4 linked regions of the Homo sapiens genome follow. The protein of the gene in region 1 purifies or fractionates together with the protein of each later gene. This does not show direct contact. Each region holds a gene or a part of one and is shown on either strand. Other genes may lie near its edges.

Region 1 (3,500 bases):
TTACAGAGCAGAAAGAGCAGACCAGAGGCTTCTCAAAACCACTAGGACTTGGCACTTTCAACTCTTTACCCCTTGCCAAGAATTTGAGGTCCTTAAGGGTTGACTGTGAGGGGCAGCTAGGGTGTAGGGAGTGGGAATGTTTCCTAGAGCAGGTCCTTAGGCAGTGGGGTCCTCAAGCACCTTTTCTCCAAGCTCAGCCTTTCTCCACCTCCACACCCCCCGCCTCCCCAGTGCATGTCATCCTTTGGGGAACAGTGTAAATTTGCCATTTAGCAAATAACAGCCCATCTGGGTGGCTAGTATACAGTGTACAAAAACATGTCACCTATTGTCTTCTCTGACCCTTGCTACAATCCTGTGAGATATTAAATCAATATAAATGTTTCGACAGAAGAAGAGACCAACGCTCAGAGAAAGCACTTTTTCTTAAGCACTTTTGCCTTGGGTCACATGGTTAGTGCCTCTACTAAGGGGATGGGTTGTCCAGTATCTGCTGAGCTTCTGCTGTATTCCAGGCAGTGCTTGGACCGTAGGTGCATTATGTCCTTTAAATCTCACAGCAGCCCCACATTATCACCTTTCACAGATGAGAAACACAAGGTTCAGAGAGATCAAGCAACATGCTCAAGCTTCCACAGTGACAGAGGGGGCTCTCAAATCTTAACTCCAAGTCTAGTGCTCATACCATGGTGCTGGCAGAAGTGCCTTAACTGCACCGGATGGGGAAGGCACCTGAGGTGGGTTCTGGCTGCTCTGGAGAAGGTGGGGACAAGGTGTGCTCTTGCTCTTGTCCAGACCACGTAGGAAACGATGGTGTGACTTGGGAAAGATGGAGGAGCCTCTCCCCAACAAGGCCCTAGGGAGGAGATGGGGATGTGGAGAGGACAGAGCAACCTTCTTTGGGGCAAGTTTGGGTTCAGAGATCACCCTGAGGGGCGGGGCACAAGGGAAGTGTCTGAGGGAGAGGGAAAAGAGAGGTCCCAAGTCTGAAAGGTTGGGAAGAGAAAGGGAGGAGGGAGACCAGGCCGGCCCCACTAGCATGCCCAGCAGGGACTCTTTTCTGTTCCCTGGGCCACAAAGAAGCAGGTGGAACCTTCCACAGATACCTGGGCCAATCAGGTGGCCCTTGTACCTGCCAGGGAAGTGGGGCAGGGTGGGGTGGGGCTACATGTCAGGGAGGATATTAAATGAGCTTCTAGCTCATTTGCATGTCCTAATTAACCACAAAGTGCGCCCCAGAGGAAGAACTAAGCTCTCTGATTTCTCTCTGCTTACGTCTGCTATCTCCTCCACATACACACTGCTTACCTCTCCCTACACCTTCCTGTATACTTAGGCCCTAGGCATTTGCATTCACCTCTTCCCTCCACTTCAGTAAAATACAGCCTCTGTCATTGCCATGGCAGGTGTCCAGGGGGAAGGGAAAAGTAAGTCTCCATCAGACAGTCAGCATGCCATTTATGATCCACGCAGGACCATGAATAATATGAGAGGACAGATTTTGCTCTTGTTCCTCTTGATTTGGCTTTGGAACAGATATGGACAATTAGTGGGATCGTCTGAAAAGCACAAGATTGCAAGTCAGTTGGAACTGATTCAATCTCAATTCCACTACTGTGTGACCTTGGACAAGTTGCTTAACTTCTCTGAGCCTGTCCATGTAAAACAAGAGCAACTGCTTTCAGTGTGTAGTGAGAAGGAAGTAACAGAGGTGAAGGTGCTGGCACTTGTAAATCATGTTGGCAGCAAGTGTTGCTTCCTAATTTTTTGTTCTGGCCCAAGTTGAAACAAGTTTTCAGTCTCCCAAGTCTCTTCTGACTAACCAATGGTTCAAAGTCTGCTTATTTTCCACTGCATCCATTTGAGAGCAGGAGTTGGGTCCTTCTCATTGCTCTGTTCTTAGTTTCTATAACAACACCTGGTGCTGGGAGGTGTTCATAAAGTTCTGTTCAATTTATCCGAACCACTGTGACCAGTCCACGAAACACGTGAGTTATAGGTGAATGTCCAAGAAGTACCTTGGTTTCCCACAGACTCATTCCAGACTTGGAGCTGGTGTCATCTTGAATAATATGCTAGATGGCTTCTCCACCAGCCAGTGTCCCACGACTTCCTCCGCTCATGATTCAGTAGGTGGAATCTTAACATGCAGTTTCTTAGCACGCGCAGGCACACACACACACACACACACACACACACACACACCACCACTACCACCACCACCACCACCACCTCCACCATCTCCACCTCCAAAGGCAGTCAGAGCCAACGTTCCCTCACTCAAAACTGAAATGTTGGTATTCTCTGGGAAGACACAAAGGATTTGCAGTGGCTGGCTCCACCAGAGTGGGCTTGCTCAGTTGGCAAACTCCAGGTAGAGAAATAGCAAGAAAAGGACAGGGGTTTTGGAGCCAGATAACCCAACCCTCTGTTCAAATCTCTGTCCTTTCCTTTGCTAGCAGCCTAATCGGGGCAGTTTACACGCCCCCTAATAACCTCCATAGATGTGTCTGGAGAACAATGCCTTCTAGGGTCCTTCTAAGTTTGAGAGATGTGCACATTACCTGACAGACAGTGAGTGCTCAACAAAACCCAAAAAGCATGAGCGCCTTCCTCCCTCCTGCAGCTCCCCCACCAAAAATGAAACATCTTACCATTTGACTGGGTAGGATTTGAGAGTGACCCTAACCACCGCGGCTGCGCCCCCATAATCCCATCTTGAGCTCTGCCCCTCTCTCCACTCTCCCCAGGGATCCAGGAAGCAAGCAGAAGAGCCTTTTCTTACTATTTTGCCTCTCCAACTGGCTATTAATGCTTTGAGGGTGGGAAGGAATCCTGCCTCTAATTGCAGCTGTCACACCCCATCAGGCTGAGGGACAATCAGTGGGAGGCAGAGAGGGGCAGTGGGAGGGTGTGCCCTCCTGGCTTGGTCAGCCCAAAAGAAGATCCACATTGTCTTTTCCCAGCCAGTGAGTGTTCCCTACTGGAGTGGGAGGGACAGTGGCTTCCCAGGGCAGTCCTGGGGGGGGGCCTGGATCACTAGGTGGCCCTCCTGGGCCACGTGCCCAGAGTGGCTTTAGAGAAGCCGGAGCTGAGCTGCTGCCTGGCCCTTCCCCCTCCGTCCCGGCTGCCTCTAGGTGAGGAGGGAACAGGAGGCCTGGGACTGCTGTGTCTAGTGGGGAGAAGGCCACGGAATGGAGCTGGGAATTTTAAAATCAAGTGGCTATTTCTTCTGGGTTCACTTCTACCTCACTGGTGAATTGGCTGTTCTCTGACCCAGGTGGGAGTTAAGTGCAGGAGACAGGGGTTGTGGGGTATGGGGCCCTACGAACTGTTTTTTTTTATTTTTTTTGAGACAGGGGAGTCTTGCTCTGTCAGCCAGGCTGGAGTGCAGTGGCATGATCTCGCCTCACTGCAACCTCCCTCTCCCGGGCTCAAGCAATTCTCCTGCCTCAGCCTCCCAAGTAGCTGGGTTTACAGGCGTGTGCCACCACGCCTGG
Region 2 (5,614 bases), about 83 Mb from region 1:
TGGGCTTAGAAGCAATCATAGGCATCTTCCTGAAATCCCAGCAGTTCTTTTTTTTGGTTTTTTTTTTTTGAGATGGAGTCTCGCTCTGTCGCCCAGGCTGGAGTCCAGTGGCGCCATCTTGGCTCACTGCAAGCTCCGCCCCCTGGGTTCACGCCATTCTCCTGCCTCAGCCTCCCGAGTAGCTGGGACTACAGGAGCCCACCATCACACCCAGCTAATTTTTTGTAGTTTATTTAATAGAGACGGGGTTTCACCATGTTAGCCAGGATGGTCTTGATCTCCTGACCTTGTGATCTGCCCGCCTCAGCCTCCCAAAGTGCTGTGCTTACAGGCGTGAGCCACCGCGCCCGGCCAGTGCCAGCAGTTCTTACAAGAGAGTAAACTAAAAAGTAACCTGACAGAAGTATAATTGAAGCCTTTATTTGGTGGTTTGCTCACCGGCTGAGAACTAGGATACTCACTTATCAAGAGTCTTTATGGGCTGGGCGTGGTGGCTCACGCCTGTAATCCCAGCACTTTCGGAGGGAGAGGCGGGAGGATCACAAAGTCAGGAGATCAAGACCATCCTGGCTAACACAGTGAAACCCCTGCACTCCAGCCTGGGCGACAGAGTGAGATTCGTCTCTCAAAAAAAAAAAAAAAAGTCTTTATGGAATGGTTTTTTTTTTTTTTTAGACAAGTTTTGCTCTTTCACCAGGCTGGATTGCAATGGCTCAATCTCAGCCCACTGCAAGTAGTAGCTGGGATTACAGGCACCTGCCACCATGCCCAGCTAATTTTTGTATTTTTAGTAGACACAGGGTTTCACCATGTTGACCAGGCTGGTCTCGAACTCCTGACATCGTGATCTGCTCGCCTCGGCCTCCCAAAGTGCTGGGATTACAGGCATGAGCCACCGCGCTGGGCAATGGTTTTTAAAAAGAGCCATTAGTTAGCTTACCAAAGACGCTAAATTCTGTTTACTATTGCACTCATTCTATGAAAACATTAAAAGGCTGGTCAATTCCAACAAACGAATCTTACACCTACATATCAAGTTCAATTATCATTAACTGAACCACTCTAGCAAACATAATCAAAATACATACTTGATTAAAAGCTGAATTTTTTTTTTGAGACAGAGTTTCACTCTTGTTGCCTAGGCTGGAGTGCAATGGCACCATCTCAGCTCACTGCAACCTCCGCCTCCCAGGTGTAAGCGATTCTCCTGCCTCAGCCTCCCAAGTAGCTGGGATTACAGGCATGCACCATCACGCCCAGCTAATTTTGTATTTTTTAGTAGAGACAGGGTTTCTCCATGTTGATCAGGCTGGTCTCAAACTCCTGACCTCAGGTGATCCGCCCACCTCGGCCTCCCAAAGTGCTGGGATTACAGGCGTGAGCCAGAGCCTGGCCAAAAGCTAAATTAACAAAACCTAAATTTGCTACTTGTTTGTTTAGACAGAGTCTCTCTCTATCGCCCAGGCTGGAGTGCAGTGGCAGGATCTCAGCTCACTGCAACCCCTGCCTCCCGGGTCCAAGAAATTATCCTGCCTCAGCCTCCCAAGTAGTTGGGATCACAGGTACCCACAACCACACCCAGCTAATTTTTTTTTTTTTTTTTGTAGTATTTTTAGTAGAGACGGGATTTCACCATGCTGGCCTCAAACTGCTGGCTTCAAACTGCTGACCTCAAGTGATCGGCCCGCCTCTGCCTACCAATGTGCTGGGATTACAAGCATGAGCCACCTGCGCCCAGCCTGCTACTCCATTTCTAAACCCATATTTCTTCATCTGGCCCCAGCAATGCAAAATTGAAAAGAAAATCACCCTGTATTTCCCCACTGGCCCTAACACATACAAGTCTATCTTAACAACTATGCTGTGCATTAAATTCATCATTTCCTTCCTGCTTTTAATCACAAGATGTAGGACAGAATTTTATTATAAAGATTAATAAGATAGTACACATTTCAAGTGGACAAACCAAGCACCTAGATGCCCCTCAGACGTCTATAAATCTGCTATGCTACTAAAAGATGCCTAAAAGATCATGGCCTCCTTACTTGTCCCTCTAGAAACAGAAGCCTGATGACCATTTAGAGCCCTTCAGATGTCTAGCAAAAAGCACCAATAAACTATCTTTTTCTACAAAATACTGTAAATTTTATTTATTTTTGATACAGAGTCTCACTCTGTTGCCCCTGCTGGAGTGCAGTGATGCAATCATGGCTCACTACAACCTCTAACTCCTGGACTCAAGGGATCCTCCTTCCTCAGCCTCCAAAGTAGCTAGGACAACAGGTGTGTGCCACCATGCCCAGCTAATTTTTTCTTTTTTAGAGAGATGGGGTCTCACTACATTGCCCAGGCTGGTCTTAAACTCCTAGGCCCAGGCAATCCTCCTGCCTCGTCCTCCCAAAGTGTTGGGATTACAGGTGTGAGCCACCACGCCAGGCCAAAATATGTTAGTTTTTTTTTGGGGGGGGGGGGCGGGGGGAGATGGGAGTTTAGCTCTTGTTGCCCAGGCTAGAGCACGATCTCGGCTCACCGCAACCTCTGCCTTCGGGGTTCAAGTGATTCTCCTACCTCAGCCTCCCAAGTAGCTGAGATTACAGGCATGTGCCACCACACCCGGCTAATTTTGTACTTTTAATAGAAACGGGGTTTCTCCATGTTGGTCAAGCTGGTCCTGACCTCAGGTGATCTGCCCACCTCAGCCTCCCAAAGTGCTGGGATTATAGGCGTGAGCCATGACGCCAGGCTTAATATGGAAGACTTTAAGTTAAACTATTAAACTGTGGGGAAGAGAGGAGTTTAAAGGACTATCAAAAAGGAAGTTTATTAGCCAACTTTTCAATAATCTGGTTCTCCATTCCCAATGCTTTTAGTGTCACTGACAAGTGTAACTCCCATTTCTTATTAATCTGTACCCACTGAAAGATAAAATAGCAACCATCCCTACTTTAACAACTATGTACCTCCAAGAAGATTGTACCAACGAGCCCTTCCTCCACTGCTAAAAGGAGTAAATTCTCATAGAGCAGCCTAACAATGCCTCAGATCCTAGATCACGTATAAGATCCCTATGAATTCATAACAAATTTAAGGAAAACATTGCTTGTTAGACTTTATTTTATATTTGAGATTAATCAACTCAGGATTCTCTCAACCACTAATACACAGATCTTCAAAGAAAAATTTCTCCTTGCTCATAAACTTTTCACCTACTTCCTACATTTAACAATGTCTAGGCCAGCTGCAGTGGCTCACACCTGTAATCCCAGCACTTTGGGAGGCAGGGGCAGATCACTTGAGCTCAGGAGTTCAAGACCAGCCTGGGCAACATGGCAAAACCCAGCTCTACAAAAAACATGAAAAACTAGCCGGGCATGGTGGTGCATGACTGTGATCCCAGCTAGTCACGAAGCTGAGATGGGGGGATCACTTGAGCCCAGAAGGTGGAGGCTGGAGTGGGCGGACATCATGCCACTGCACTCCAGCCTGGGCAACAGAGAACCCTGTCCAAAAAAAAGTAAGTATAAATCCCAGATAATATATCATTATCTGCTCCAACCAGTTTTATCATCCTCTTATAATCCTAAAGTTTACATTCACTCAATACTCACAGAGCAAACGCTACCAACTCTTTCAAATTCAACTCTAGTTTGAATCCATTCCTCATCATTCTGCCCAAGATTCCCACTTGTTACAGAGGAAATCAGAAGTGACTCTTTTACACCGCCAATTGTCACAGGGAAGACAGAAGTGATTTCAAGAGTTGGTGATGACATATTGACTCTTGAAAATAACCACAAAACCCCAGCTAGGCCAAGTTAATCCAACAGAGAACATTTCGATTTTTCTCTGCCATATTATAGACTCAATCTTCTGCTTTAATTTCTATGGTTTTATCACTTCCATTACCCCTCTGCATCTCTTTGACTCATTCTTCACCTCTTTCTGCATCATGTACTGTTTCTGTCTGATTTCCTTGTACTGTTTTTGCTTTCCTTTCAAAGTCCGTATTTCTGTCCTCTACTAATGTTCTCACATTCCTTCACATTAGGGTTCAAGTATTAAAACCAATTATACTTCTATAAAGCCTTGAACTGTTAGGTGATACTGTATTCATTTACAGAGTTTTTATTAACGGTTCACTATATAATACCTCTTCTGTTCTCTCTGGTTCCTCCTTCCCTAAAAATCTTAATAAGAAGAAGTGGGTTACCTTTTTAACACTTTCTTCTTCCTCTTGGCGTTTCTCATAGTGTGAGAAGTCATCAAAAATGGAAGTGGTGTGCTTGTAGCTGGCTATAATTTTCAACACCTGCTTAGCCTTTTCCAGAGGCACTTCCTGAGTGTCCCTAGAGTTGGTCACTGGTTTATTCTCGTTGTTCTCTAGGCGAATGTGTCGCAGTTGGCTATTGGGAACGTCCTTCACAAAAATCCACCTGACATCAAAACGACCCTTCCATTTGTCCTGGGACCACACACCTGCACATGTGTTGTAGTCCACAGCAGATTTCATTTCTGCCACGCCACAGAAGTGTCCACTGCCGTTGACACTGAAAAGTAAGTAAACGGGGCCTTTCCCGTTCATGGAACGATAAGCAGCATCCAGTCTCTTGTTACCATGCTCTGTGCTGCACCAAATATTATACTTAATGGAACGGTGAATATCGTCCTCAGAGTAGCTCTTAATGATGAAAACCCGGCCATGTTTCAGATTCCAGTCAAAATCTTTGGGGTTATAGTTATTAATGGACCGAAGCTTCTCCAACACTGGGTGGGGTTCTGAAGGAGTAGATCCAGAACCAGCCTGAGACTGTCCTACTCCATTACCATCCACCCCATTATGACCGAACCCACTGCCACGGTTCCGAGGTGCTACCCAGCGGGTTGGCTGAGCTGCCTGTTGCTGGACTGAAAGCTGGGCAGGCTGTGGTGGAGGTGGAGGCAATGGCTGTGTCTGTTGCCCTACTGATGCCTGAGCCACTGGTGGGCTATTGTTAGCCTGCTGACCTACAGGCTGAGGAGACCCCTGGGTTGGCTGACCTATATTCTGAACCAAAGCCTGTGAGGGGGCTTTTGCAACGGGACCCTTGTTATCCCAAGTTCCAATATCCATGTTATGCTTTATCGGGGGTGGCGGAAGACTTGACCCTGCAATGCCATTCTTGGTCTTCAGTTTAGGTTGCTGTTTTGCAGGCTTGCTAGCAATATCAGCCCAAGATGCTGGTTTTGGAGGAGCAATGGTGGCTGGAGGCAAACTATTGGAAGCCACGATGTTACTAGTAATGGACCCGCTACCAACAGCAGAACCTACAACTTTTGGAACATTGCTTGCAACTTCTGTGCTACCCAACTTCAGTGCTGCCATCCCTTGGTCTATAGTATTCATGCCAGGAGCCTTATTGAGGGTCTCATTGGCAAAAGCTGACTGTCCATCAATCATGGCTCCACCTAAGGAGCTAGGTGCATAAGCATAATTGCTACTATATCCAGAGCTCTGAGTAGACTGTCCCTGAGAACTGTTATTTCCCCATGCTGAGAAGTCAATCCCACTGGGAAAGAAATTAAAACCATGCTGACCAAGAAATGGAGTGCTACCTAGGGCTCCTGGTTGCCCAAA
Region 3 (5,614 bases), on another chromosome or scaffold:
CTCCGATGGCCTCGGCAATGCTCTGAGAGCCCTACACCCCATTAGAAGTATGTTCCTTTCCATATGTTCCACACTATGAAACAGATGCTAGGATCATGCCCATGTCCCATGTGAGAATACAGAGGCTCTGAGGATAAACTGCTCATCCAGGGTTCCCTGGCTGTGCAGGTGGCCAGACCCACGCACACAGCCTCCTCCTGGCGGTTCCCTTGCTCTCCCCACCCAGACCTACCCATCCCTGTTCCCAGCTCACGTGACAACAGGATCGTGGCAAGGCTGCAGGGAGAGACAACAGCAGTCGAAGTCCTTCACGGCATCCCGGCTCAGTCGAATGTTCTGGGTCCCATAGCCCGAGGCCGCTGGGGACAGAGATGGGCAGAGTGATGGAGGGGCGGAGCAACAGGAGACATGTCCGTCTCCAAAGCCCCAGAGAGAGGCACAGAGACAACGCGGTGGTGGGGGTGGGGGACTCAGAGAGAAACAGGCAGTTGGGAGCCGCTGCCTGTGTGCTGGGGCCACGGGCTGAACCCACAGGGAGTTGTCAACCCTGGAGGGTGAGAGGCAGACAGGCCTGGTCACTGAGTGGCAGCTTGGTGGAGGGGCTGACGGCTGACTCCCCTCCACCCTTCTGACTGTGACCAAGCTCAAGTGCCTGTCCCTCTTTGGGCCTCAGTTTCTTCCTCTGGAACATGGGGTAACAAGAGCACCCTCCCTGACACTCTGTTGGGAGGAGTGAGTTCATGCGCAGAAGGCAGAGAACACAGTGCCGGGCCACATGGGGTCATGGGATCACCCAGCTGTTGTTTACATGGTCATGGCCATCAGTGTATATCGGGGGCGGGAGAGAGACAGGGACAGAGGAAGCAAAACCTGGGGCACGAGGGGAGAGGGTGACTCCAAGACACAGCCATGTCCCGCCTCTTCCCACCCCAGCCCTGCACCTGTGTCCTTCTTCTTCTCGTGGTAGGTGTAGACGGCCCCTGCGGTGCAGTTCTTGCCATGCCGCGTCATCCTAGGGAGGAAGGGACAGTGGCAGGACTGTGGTTACCGGAGGCAGGCAGCACAGGGAAGACCTCTGCAGCCCTCAGAGCTGATCTGCCCCCCTTGATGGGAAAGCGGAGGCGGAGAAGGGGGGTGAGGTGGAAGAGAGGGAGGGCATGTGGTCGCCAGGCCTCCTCCAGGAAGTCCTCCTTCCAGACTCACCTAGACTCATTTATATGTGAAAATAGCACCTTTAACAACAAAACTCTTTGTTTGGAGGTAAGAGGGTGAGAGACCAGAGTTCAAATTCTAGCCACTACTTCAGATTAGCTAGGGTGGTGGCTGTGCCATTTAATGGAGGGGAAAAAAAAAGACACCAAGGGGGCCACTATTGTTGATGAATCCACTCCACCTTCCCTTCCCCTCTCATATCTGTAAGCTCTGACTGAGGCCAAGGCGTGGACCAGCCCAGTGATTGGCTCAAGGCTGGGCACTTAGCTAAGGCTTGACACTTAGCTAAGGCTTGACCCAATCGCTGCCTGCCAGTCCACTAGCGACTGGATCTAGCAGCTGTGATTATGTCTCAGATCGACCGATCAGAGGGCAGGTCAGAGTAGGGCTCTGTGTCTAGGGGAAGAGCTACCTCCACTCCCACTGCAGGTAAAGGAGGAAGAGAAGACCCCAGAACCCTGGAGCTCAATTCAAAAAGCAAAGCTTTTTTTATTCTGTAAGTTTTCAAACACATACAAAACCAGAATAGTATAAGGAACCCCCATGATGTACCCATGTCCTGCGGTCCAGCAGCTGTCAACATTTTGCCACCTTACTTTGATACCTTTGATCATTCCCCATACTTAAGGGCAACCCCCACCCTTTTAAATGACTTTATTGAGACACAATTCACATACCATAAAATTAACCCTTTTAAAGTGGTTTCAGACCAGGTGTAGTGGCTCACGCCTGTAATCTCAGCACTTTGGGAGGCTGAGTCAGGTGGATCACTTGAGTTCAGGAGTTCAAGATCAGCCTGGCCAACATGGTGAAACCCCGTCTCTACTAAAAATACAAAAATTAGCTGGGCGTGGTGGCACACGCCAGTAATCCCAACTACTCGGGAGGCTGAGGCACTGAGAATCACTTGAGCCCAGGAGGCAGGGGTTGCAGTGAGCCGACATCATGCCACTGCACTCCAACCTAGACAGAGCAAGGCTCTGTCACAATTAAAAAAAAAAAAAAAAAGACATTGCCTAAGCCAAGATAATGCACATTTATTCCTATGTTTTCTTCTAGGGGTTTGATCATTTTAACTTTTACTTTTTGAGTTAATTTTTGTGTATGGTGTGAGGAAGGGAGCCCCCTACTTTTCTGGAGTTCATTTGTAAAAGGAGAAGCCCTGAACCCACAGAGGCTGGGCAGCTTTCACCAAGACTGCTTGGCCAGTAAACAGCCTGCATGCCTGTTTGTTTGTTTGTTTTTTGAGACGGAGTTTCACTCTTGTTGCCCAGACTGGAATGCAATAGCATGATCTTGGCTCACTGAAACCTCTGCCTCCCAAGTTAAAGCGATTCTCCTGCCTCAGCTTCCCAAATAGCAGGGATTACAGGTGCCTGCCACCACGCCTGGCTAATTTTTTTGTATTTTTAGTAGAGACGGGGTTTCACCGTGTTGGCCAGGCTGGTCTTGAGCTCCTGACCTCAGGTGATCCACCTGCCTCAGCCTCCCAAAGTGCTGGGATTACAGGCGTGAGTCACTGTGCCTGGCCCCTGCAGGCTTTTTTATCCCTTAAAATGATTTAGAGCCAGGCTCAGGGCTCACGCCTGTAATCCCAAAACTTTGGGAGGCTGAAGCAAGAGGACTGTTGAGCCCAGGAGATGGAGATGAGCCTAGGCAACACAGCAAGATCCATCTCTATTAAATTTAAAAACAAAGAAGTTGATGGCCAGGTGCAGTGGCTGATGCCTGTAATCCCAGCACTTTGGGAAGCCGAGGCGGGGGCGGATCACGAGATCAAGAGATCGAGACCATCCTGGCCAACATGGTGAAACCCTGTCTCTACTAAAAATACAAAAATTAGCTGGGTGTGATGGCACATGCCTGTAGTCCCAGCTACTCGGGAGGCTGAAACAGGAGACTCATTGAACCTGGGAGGTGCAGGTTGCAGGGAGTGGAGATTGCACCACTACACTCCAGCCTGGTGACAGACAGAGACTCTGTCAAAAGAAAAAGAAGAGAAGAGAGAAGATCTAGTAACATTATATACTTGTCTCACTCATCTCTAAGTTGCCACCTAAAAATTCTCCCAAGCTTAAACAGTTGCAAAGGATACAATTTCCAGCAACGTAAATGTGTAGCTGATGGAATCTAAATACTGTAATAATTTGAGACCATTTGAAAAATGCAAGAAAAAGCTGTTTCAACAGCAGAAAATTATACATGTCCTGTTTTTCTCTTTGAACTTGTATTTCCGTTCCACTTCCCTCTCTGCCACCCATTTTTAATCTAACATCGTTTTTTCTTTTTGTTTTTTTTTTTGAGACAGGGACTCACTCTGTTGTCCAGGCTGGAGTGCAGTGGTACAATCACAGCTCACTGCAGCCTTGACCTCCTGGGCTCAAGTGATTCTCCTGCCTCAGCCTCTCGAGTAGCTGGGACTACAGGCATGTGCCACCACGCCCAGCTAATTTTTATATTTTTAGTAGAGATGGGGTTTTGCCATGTTGCCCAGGTTGGCCTTGAACTCCTGGACTCAAGTGAACTCCTGGCCTCCCAAAGTGTTGGGATTACAGGTGTGAGCCACTGCACCTGGCACATCATATCTTTTGTGCTTGAAAATTCTTTTTTTTTTTTTTGAGATCGAGTTTTGCTCTTGTTGCCCAAGCTGGAGTGCAATGGCACGATCTCAGCTCACTACAACCTCCGCCTCTTGGGTTCAAGCAATTCTCCTGCCTCAGCCTCCTAAGTAGCTGGGATTACAGGTGCATGCCACCATACCCAGCTAATTTTTTGTATTTTTAGTAGAAACAGGGTTTTACCATATTGGCTAGGCTGGCCTTGAACTCCTGACCTCAGGTGATCCACCCGCCTCGGCCTCCCAAAGTGCTGGGATTACAGGTGTGAGCCACTGTGCCCAGCCTGAAAATACTTGCTTTAGTGATCACCCTGTTATATGTCTCTGCAAGAAATAAAAAATATGGATAGGAAATCCTTTTAAACATTTCCCATTGTTCCTAGGCTATAAGAGTCCAATACTCTTCTAGATCAGTGGTTCTCAAAGTGTGGGTCCTAGGACCCTGTGGTCCCCCAACACATTTCTAGACAGTCTGCAAGGTCAAAACTGTTGTCTTAATAATACTAAGACATTATTTGCCTTTCTGATTCTCATTCTCTCACAAGTACACCAGAGGCTCCATGAGGTGTGACACTGCAACACTAAATTAGTAGTAATTTGTTACAACAATGATAGGAAACTAATATAGTCACCAGGGAAACGCACATTAAAACTTCACTGAAGGCCGAGCACCGTGGCTTACACCTGTAATCCCAGCACTTTGGAGGCTGAAGCGGGCAGATCACTTGAGGTCAGGAGTTCAAGTCCAGCCTGGCCAACATGGCAAAACCCCATCTGTACTAAAAATACAAAAAGTTAGCTGGTCGTGGTGGTGTGCGCCTGTAATCCCAGCTACTGGGGAGGCTGAGGCATGAGAATCGCTTGAACCTGGGAGGCGGAGGTTGCAGTGAGCCAAGATCACGCCACGGCACTCTAGCCTAGGGGACAGAGCGAGACTCCATCTCAAAAAAAAAAAAAAAAAAAAAAACAAAATAAAACTTCATTGAGATACCTCCCCACACGCACCACAAGGGTTGCAATTAGACAGAGGGGTGCAGGCGAGGACATGGAGCTACTAGAACCCTCGTGCACTGCTCAGGGGAGTGCAGACCAGCACAACCACTTTGGAAAGCAACTGTCAGTATCTACTGAAGCCAGGCATATGCCAGTCCTATGAGCCAGCAATTCGTCTCCCACGTATACACCTAACAGAAGGGTACACCTGTTTACAAGACACATACACTGCCCTATTCACAATGGCTCATAAACTGGAAACTACCCCATGCCTGTCAGCACAGAGTAGATAAAGAAACTGGGCCATATCACATAATGGAAACACCCAGCAATGAGACACAACAGCCTACTGTCATACCCATAGTATAGCTGAATCTCACAGACACCACGCAGGCGAGACACCAGACACGCAAAAGAAAACTTACTGTATGATCCCATTCATGTGACGTTCAAAAACTCACAAAGTAATTACTACACCAGAAGTTATGTGTGGGTGGGTGTGGTGGCTCACACCTGTAATATGAACACTTGGGGAGGCCAAGGCAGGAGGATTGTTTGAGCCCAGGAGTTTGAGACCAGCCTGAGCAACATAGCAAAACCTTGTCACTACAAAACATAGAAAAATTAGCTGGGCATGGTGGTGCATGCCTGTAGTCGCAGCTACTTGGGAGTCTGAGATGGATCACCTGAGCCCAGGGAGGTCAAGGCTGCAGTGAGCCATGATTGGGCCACTGCACTCCAGCCTGGGAGTCAGAGTGAGACCCTGTCTCAAAAAAAAAAAAGTCAGGTGCC
Region 4 (5,614 bases), on another chromosome or scaffold:
CCCCTCCACTTCTACATCAAGTTTGTCCAACCCGCAGCCCATGGGCCGCATGTGGGCCCAGGACGGCTTTGAATGTGCCCCAACACAAATTCATAAACTTTCTTAAAACATGGGTTGTTGTGTTTTTTTTGCAATTTTTTTTTTAGCTCATCATTTATCATTAGTGTATTTTATGTGTGGCCAAAGAAAATTCTTCTTCCAGTGTGGCCCAGGGAAGCCAAAAGATTGGACACCCTCCGTTCTATATGGTGAGCAGTCATCTTTGAGTCACCTAATAGTAGGCTGCTTAACTAGAGACTGAGTGGATAATAAATTGTTGTTGGATTTCGAATGCTTTTTTCCCCCAGGATAATTTGGGAGAAAAAATTGAAAAGATGTTGTGATTTGTAAATGGTAAAGTTTTGGGCTTCTGTCACAGCTTTATCACAATCTATTTTAAAATTTACCTTTTAACAGCCTGAGGAACATAATGAGACCTGGTCTCTACAAAAAAATTAAAAAGTTAGGCTGGGCACGGTAGCTCACGCCTGTAATCCCAACACGTTGCCGAGGTGGGTGAATCACCTGAGGTCAGGAGTTCGAGACCATCTTGACCAACATGGCAAAACCCCGTCTCTACTAAAAATAGAAAATTAGCTGGGCGTGGTGGCGCATGCCTGTAATCCCAGCTACTCAGGAGGCTGAGGCAGGAGAATCACTTGAACCTGGAAGGCGGAGGTTGCAGTGAACCAAGATCGCGAGCCTGGGCAACAAGAGCGAAACTCTGTCTCAAAAAATAAATAAATAAATAAATAAAAATTAGCTGGGCGAGTTAGTCACGCCTGCGGTCCCAGCTACTCGAGAGCTGAGGCAGGATGATCAGCTGAGGCAGGAAGATTGCTTGAGCCTGGGAGGTTGAGGCTGCAGTGAGCCATGACTGTGCCACTGCACTCCATCCTGGGCAAAACAGCAAGACCGTGTGTTGAAAAAAAATTTTTTTTAACCTCTTTGTCATTATAAAGACAGACTGGCTTAGAGATCAAGACTGAAGTTGGGGCTTACACTGCCTTCTTCTAAATATACTTATGCCTAATTAATAGTCTGGTTACTTGGTTATTTGTTGGCAAATTCTTTTTGTGAATGGGCCTTAGCTTAATGGCAAGCAGAAATACTTATCAGGCATCCTGTGTGCCAGGTACTTTGCTTAATGTTTAGAGGATTTAACAATGAACAAGATACAGTCCTTTCCCTCAACACGCTCATAGTCTGCTTCTTACATTCTTGACCCACTTTGAATCTATAGGGGCATAAATAACCTGCTGTTACCTCAACAGCAGGCAGACAGCTGGTATGATATTTATTAGTAGAAGTTAGGGAATGGGTTGGGACATGGGGAAGGTTGGGCTGATTCCAGAGATAAAAACTACTATTGTAATTACTAGAGGAATAGGAAAATCATTAGAAGTATTATCAGTGGATAAGCACAAGGATCTTCCCCTTGCAGAGGATTATAGGAAGGAAGTTCTAGGATAGATTACAAGGAAAGATGTATTAGTGATATGCCATAATTATGGTATTTAACATTGTGGTTAAATCTGAAAAGTGCTCTTTAAAAAAATGTCATTCAGATCTTAAGGGCAGATTTTAATGTGTGATACAGATCAGTTCCTATTACAGTGAAGGACAAGAGACTGTTCAATTTCTTCTTTTTAGCCAGAATGGTAATGGTTTTGTCACAGCAATTTAACAAGGCTTCCATTTTGTAAGTTTTTCCAGCAGTATAAACATTTTAAGGACAATAGCTAGGTTCTTGGGATACTTGTCTGGAAACGAATATTTTGGTTAAAACATGTTTTGTTGATTTTTAAAAATAACAGCTTTATTGAGATATGTGTCTTATACCATATAATTCACCATTTAAAGTGTACTATTCAATGGTTTTTGGTTTATTCACAGAGTAGTATGTTGATGTGTTTGTGGTCAACCTGCCTTGCTCCCAAAAGAATTAAAGGAAACTATGATATCTCATTGCTTCTGATTTTGAAAATATTTGCTAGTCTTGACTTGCCAGTGGATATCTATATCATACATCATCCATAGGTGCTTTTGGTAACTAGAAGCAATTCTACATTTGTGGAGTAGGGTTTATCAATTAGACCTAGAAGGATTATCGGGAACATTATAATGAATGGCATGCTATTCCTCCTGTCATCATGTTCCCAGACACCATGGATAGCACCATGGTATCCATGCTATAGGATGGTCAAGATTACTTGAAGCTGGGTTTTTTTTTTTTTAATTTTTTATTTTTTTTGAGACAGGGTCTCACTGTGTCACCCAGGCTGGAGTGCAGTGAAATGAACATGGCTCACTGTAGCCTTTAACTCCTGGGCTCAAGCTGTCCTCCCACCTCAGCCTCGTGAGTAGCTGGGACCACAGCTATGCACCCAGCTAATTTTTAAATTTCTTCTAGAGATAGTCTCAGTATGTTGCCCAGGCTGGTCTTAAACTCCTGGACTCAAGTGATCCTCCTGCTTCCACCTCCCATAGTGTGGGATTACAGGCATGAGCCACCACACCCAGCCTATTTTATTTATTTATTTATTTATTTATTTATTTATTTATTTAGGTTCAGGGTCTCACTCTGTTGTCCAGGCTGAGGTGTAGTGGTGTGAACATGGCTCATTGCAGTATCGACCTCCCAGGTGCAAGCCATCCTCCCACCTCACCTTCCTGGGTAGCTGAATCTACAGGCATGTGCTACCAAACCCAGCTAATTTTTGTACTTTTTACAGAGACAGGATCTTGCTGTGTTGCCCAGGCTGATCTCTAACTCCTCAGGTCAAATGATTCTCCTGCCTCGGCCACTCAAAGTGTTGAGATTACAGACATGAGCCACCATGCCTGGCTTATTTTTAATTTTAAAAAAGTTTTAATTTTTTTGTTTACTTTTGTGTTTTGTTTTGTTTTTACCTGAAGCTGTTTGATTAGGAGGTTCCCATGTGTGCTGAGATGCTGAGTATTGTAACAGTGCAAAGACAATCTAAAATTCCACATTTGCAAAGCATGTTAACTTGCCTAGATGAAACAGCTCTTAAGGTCAGTAGATTGTATATGTGTAACTTTCCATTCCCAACATATCCTCTCATATATACAGGAGCCACATGGCCTAGATTTTTTCTGGGATAGATCCACTTTTATATTCTATGGCACTGTCTCTTCAAACTACTGATCTTGGAAATTCTAATATTTTCATGTCGAGACTGTATTTCTCAGACTGCTTCCAACATCTTAAAGAGGAACAGAAATCTCATCTCTGATCATGTGCCCTGACTTGGAGTTTGGCAAGGATGTTAGCTGTCCTCAAGTCTCCTGTCATGCCCTTTCCATTTGAATTTCCTCCTGGTGTTCCTAGGCCTGTTAACGACTTGCTGTTCTCCTAGTTCCGCAGCTTGGAAACCTCCGTATCTTTTTTCTTGTCTTTCACATTCGACTTCTTCTATATCAATTCTAATTTCAGTTGACATCCAGCTGATAGCTCAGATTTGGAACTCCCACTAGTACTCTTTTTCTCTGTCTTAATGTCCCAAACATGTTTCTGTCTTATTACGGTTACTGTATTTGTGTATATGTTTACCACTCCCACGATACTCTAAGCCCCCTGACATGCTGTTTTGTTTACCTCCTGTAGAGCCTAGCCCAGTGTTACACAGAATAGCTGCTCATTGAATATTTGTTGAATGAATACTTAAGCAGGGGAGGGATGGAATGAAAATAATGGTTTGGCATGATCAGTCCACTTGTAGGGACGAAGCAGGGTATAAAGATGTGGTTAAACAAGTAAACACATTTTCAGGCATGTTGAACAGGATGAGTAATAGAACTGGGAACCAGGGAGACCAGGAAACTTTCAGGAAACAAAATGTGAAGTGGTGAAGGTCTGGTGGACTGAGGCAGGGGCAGAAGGTGTGGGAAAGAAGAGGATAAATCCGAGAGACAGGTCTCTCCGAGATGGATTACATATAGGATGGGAAGGAGCAGGAGTAGTATGAAATAATGCCAGTAGCTCCAGACTTGGAAACTGAAAATTAATTCCTGTTTCATCACAAATTTTGACTGCCTCTGTGGAACTTGAATGCTACTAAGAAATACTTCTTTACATAGCTTGACAAAGCAAAATGCCCATTATTTCCTCTTGAAATTTGTTACTGTTTCTTGAAGTGTGAAAGTTTTGTGTATTGTCCAGAAAAGATTACAGAGAGATTCTGATTCTAATGAGAATTGCTGCTGCCACATATTTTAGATCTTCCTGGTACTTTTAGCTTTTTTTTTTTTTTTTTAAATAATGAAAGAGAACTGGAGGAAGCTTTATGAATGGGCTTCCAGGGATTTAACTGTAACCTCAGGGGAGGGGTGACAGGGAATGCTAACTCGTGTATGGGAGAATGTGGGAGAGGAGAGATGATCCGCCTTACTTCTTACCTCAGAAGGTAATTTAGTTTCTCTGTTTTTCATTTTATGATGAATTTTGCCTCCATTGGGAGAATTCAGGAGTACGTGGTCCACTAGAGGATAGACTTGGATGTATTTGTCTCCACTTCAGGCAATTCCCAGTGAAGTATGAGGTACTGTTGGAAGTCTAAACTTCTGATCTGTGGAGTAAGGTCTGGCCATAGACAAAATATTATGTGAGCAATTCCACTTCTTCCACCTCACCTGAAGGCATGTCCTCCATCCTACAGTGGTCTTCCTAGACTTATTCTATTTATCTTCCTAGGGAGTTTGTCCTTTTCTCCCCAGCACCACCCCACTCCCAATCTTTCATCAACTTTATTGAGGTATAATATACTTGAAAAGTCCCTCATTTTAAGTGTACAGTTTGATGAGTTTTGACACATATATTCTGTCATGTAACCACCGCCACAAACAAGATGCAGAACATTTCCATCACCCCAAAAGTTCCCTTGTGCTTTGTCTCTTATCTTCCCCAACATCTTCAGGGAGTTTACTGGAGTTATGCTTGCTCATTAGGGCAGAAGGAAGTTTTTTCTTTTTGGTTTTTCCGAAATGAATGCTATGGTTCCACCTTAGCCCAACCAATAGAGATACTTATTACAAAGGCCTGGCATTGGAGATCATGGCTGTGGAGTTTCATTTTCAGTGGGAGGCGGAAGTGGATATAAAAGGAGTTTAGATGATTTTTGTTTAATCTTTCCTTCACACACTGACCACTTTGCCTTTATTAATGATGTCTGCCTTTGATGCCTTCTGAAATGCCCTTTGGTTAATTTTGCCCTTTAACGGTTCCTCTTCCCCATCTGTCTTGGTTGTAACATCAGTCTGAGTTTGTGCTGATACAACCTAAACTTTGCAGAAACTTATCCCTGGCTCTTCATGCCTCAGGCATTCTCCATTTCTCTTCTAAGCCCTCCTCACTTGGAATTCTTTTTAACTAGCAGGCATTAGCGTTAAATATCTCCTTGTACAGCAAAGGCTTTTTGCCAATTGTAGAACTTAGGGATGATGTAATTATTTTTTGATTTCAAAATAATGGTTCTAAACTTGATTGAAATCAAGGGAGAAGTGCATTGTACATAATGCACTAAGTGTTCATGAGGACCATGTATCTACCTCC

The links.
Region 2: the proteins of INKA2 (region 1) and YTHDF2 purify together in Homo sapiens (affinity purification with mass spectrometry, with the first as the bait; one large-scale study listed by BioGRID). This does not show direct contact.
Region 3: the proteins of INKA2 (region 1) and NOSIP purify together in Homo sapiens (affinity purification with mass spectrometry, with the first as the bait; one large-scale study listed by BioGRID). This does not show direct contact.
Region 4: the proteins of INKA2 (region 1) and MYO5A purify together in Homo sapiens (affinity purification with mass spectrometry, with the first as the bait; one large-scale study listed by BioGRID). This does not show direct contact.

The regions. Positions count from the first base shown.
Region 1 is NC_000001.11:111,722,396-111,725,895, forward strand, and holds part of INKA2 (PAK4-inhibitor INKA2), read right to left. Parts: 3' UTR 1-3,500. UniProt on the Homo sapiens protein: Inhibitor of the serine/threonine-protein kinase PAK4. Acts by binding PAK4 in a substrate-like manner, inhibiting the protein kinase activity.
Region 2 is NC_000001.11:28,742,583-28,748,196, reverse strand, and holds part of YTHDF2 (YTH domain-containing family protein 2), read right to left. Parts: coding exon 4,211-5,614; intron 1-4,210. UniProt on the Homo sapiens protein: Specifically recognizes and binds N6-methyladenosine (m6A)-containing RNAs, and regulates their stability. M6A is a modification present at internal sites of mRNAs and some non-coding RNAs and plays a role in mRNA stability and processing.
Region 3 is NC_000019.10:49,559,681-49,565,294, forward strand, and holds part of NOSIP (nitric oxide synthase-interacting protein), read right to left. Parts: intron 4,611-5,614; exon of another isoform or gene 4,477-4,610; coding exon of another isoform or gene 4,475-4,476; intron 1,013-4,474; coding exon of another isoform or gene 1,012-1,012; coding exon 942-1,011; intron 360-941; coding exon 254-359; intron 225-253; exon of another isoform or gene 1-224. UniProt on the Homo sapiens protein: E3 ubiquitin-protein ligase that is essential for proper development of the forebrain, the eye, and the face. Catalyzes monoubiquitination of serine/threonine-protein phosphatase 2A (PP2A) catalytic subunit PPP2CA/PPP2CB.
Region 4 is NC_000015.10:52,521,547-52,527,160, reverse strand, and holds part of MYO5A (unconventional myosin-Va), read left to right. Parts: intron 1-2,958; exon of another isoform or gene 2,959-2,979; coding exon of another isoform or gene 2,980-3,078; intron 3,079-5,614. UniProt on the Homo sapiens protein: Processive actin-based motor that can move in large steps approximating the 36-nm pseudo-repeat of the actin filament. Can hydrolyze ATP in the presence of actin, which is essential for its function as a motor protein. Involved in melanosome transport.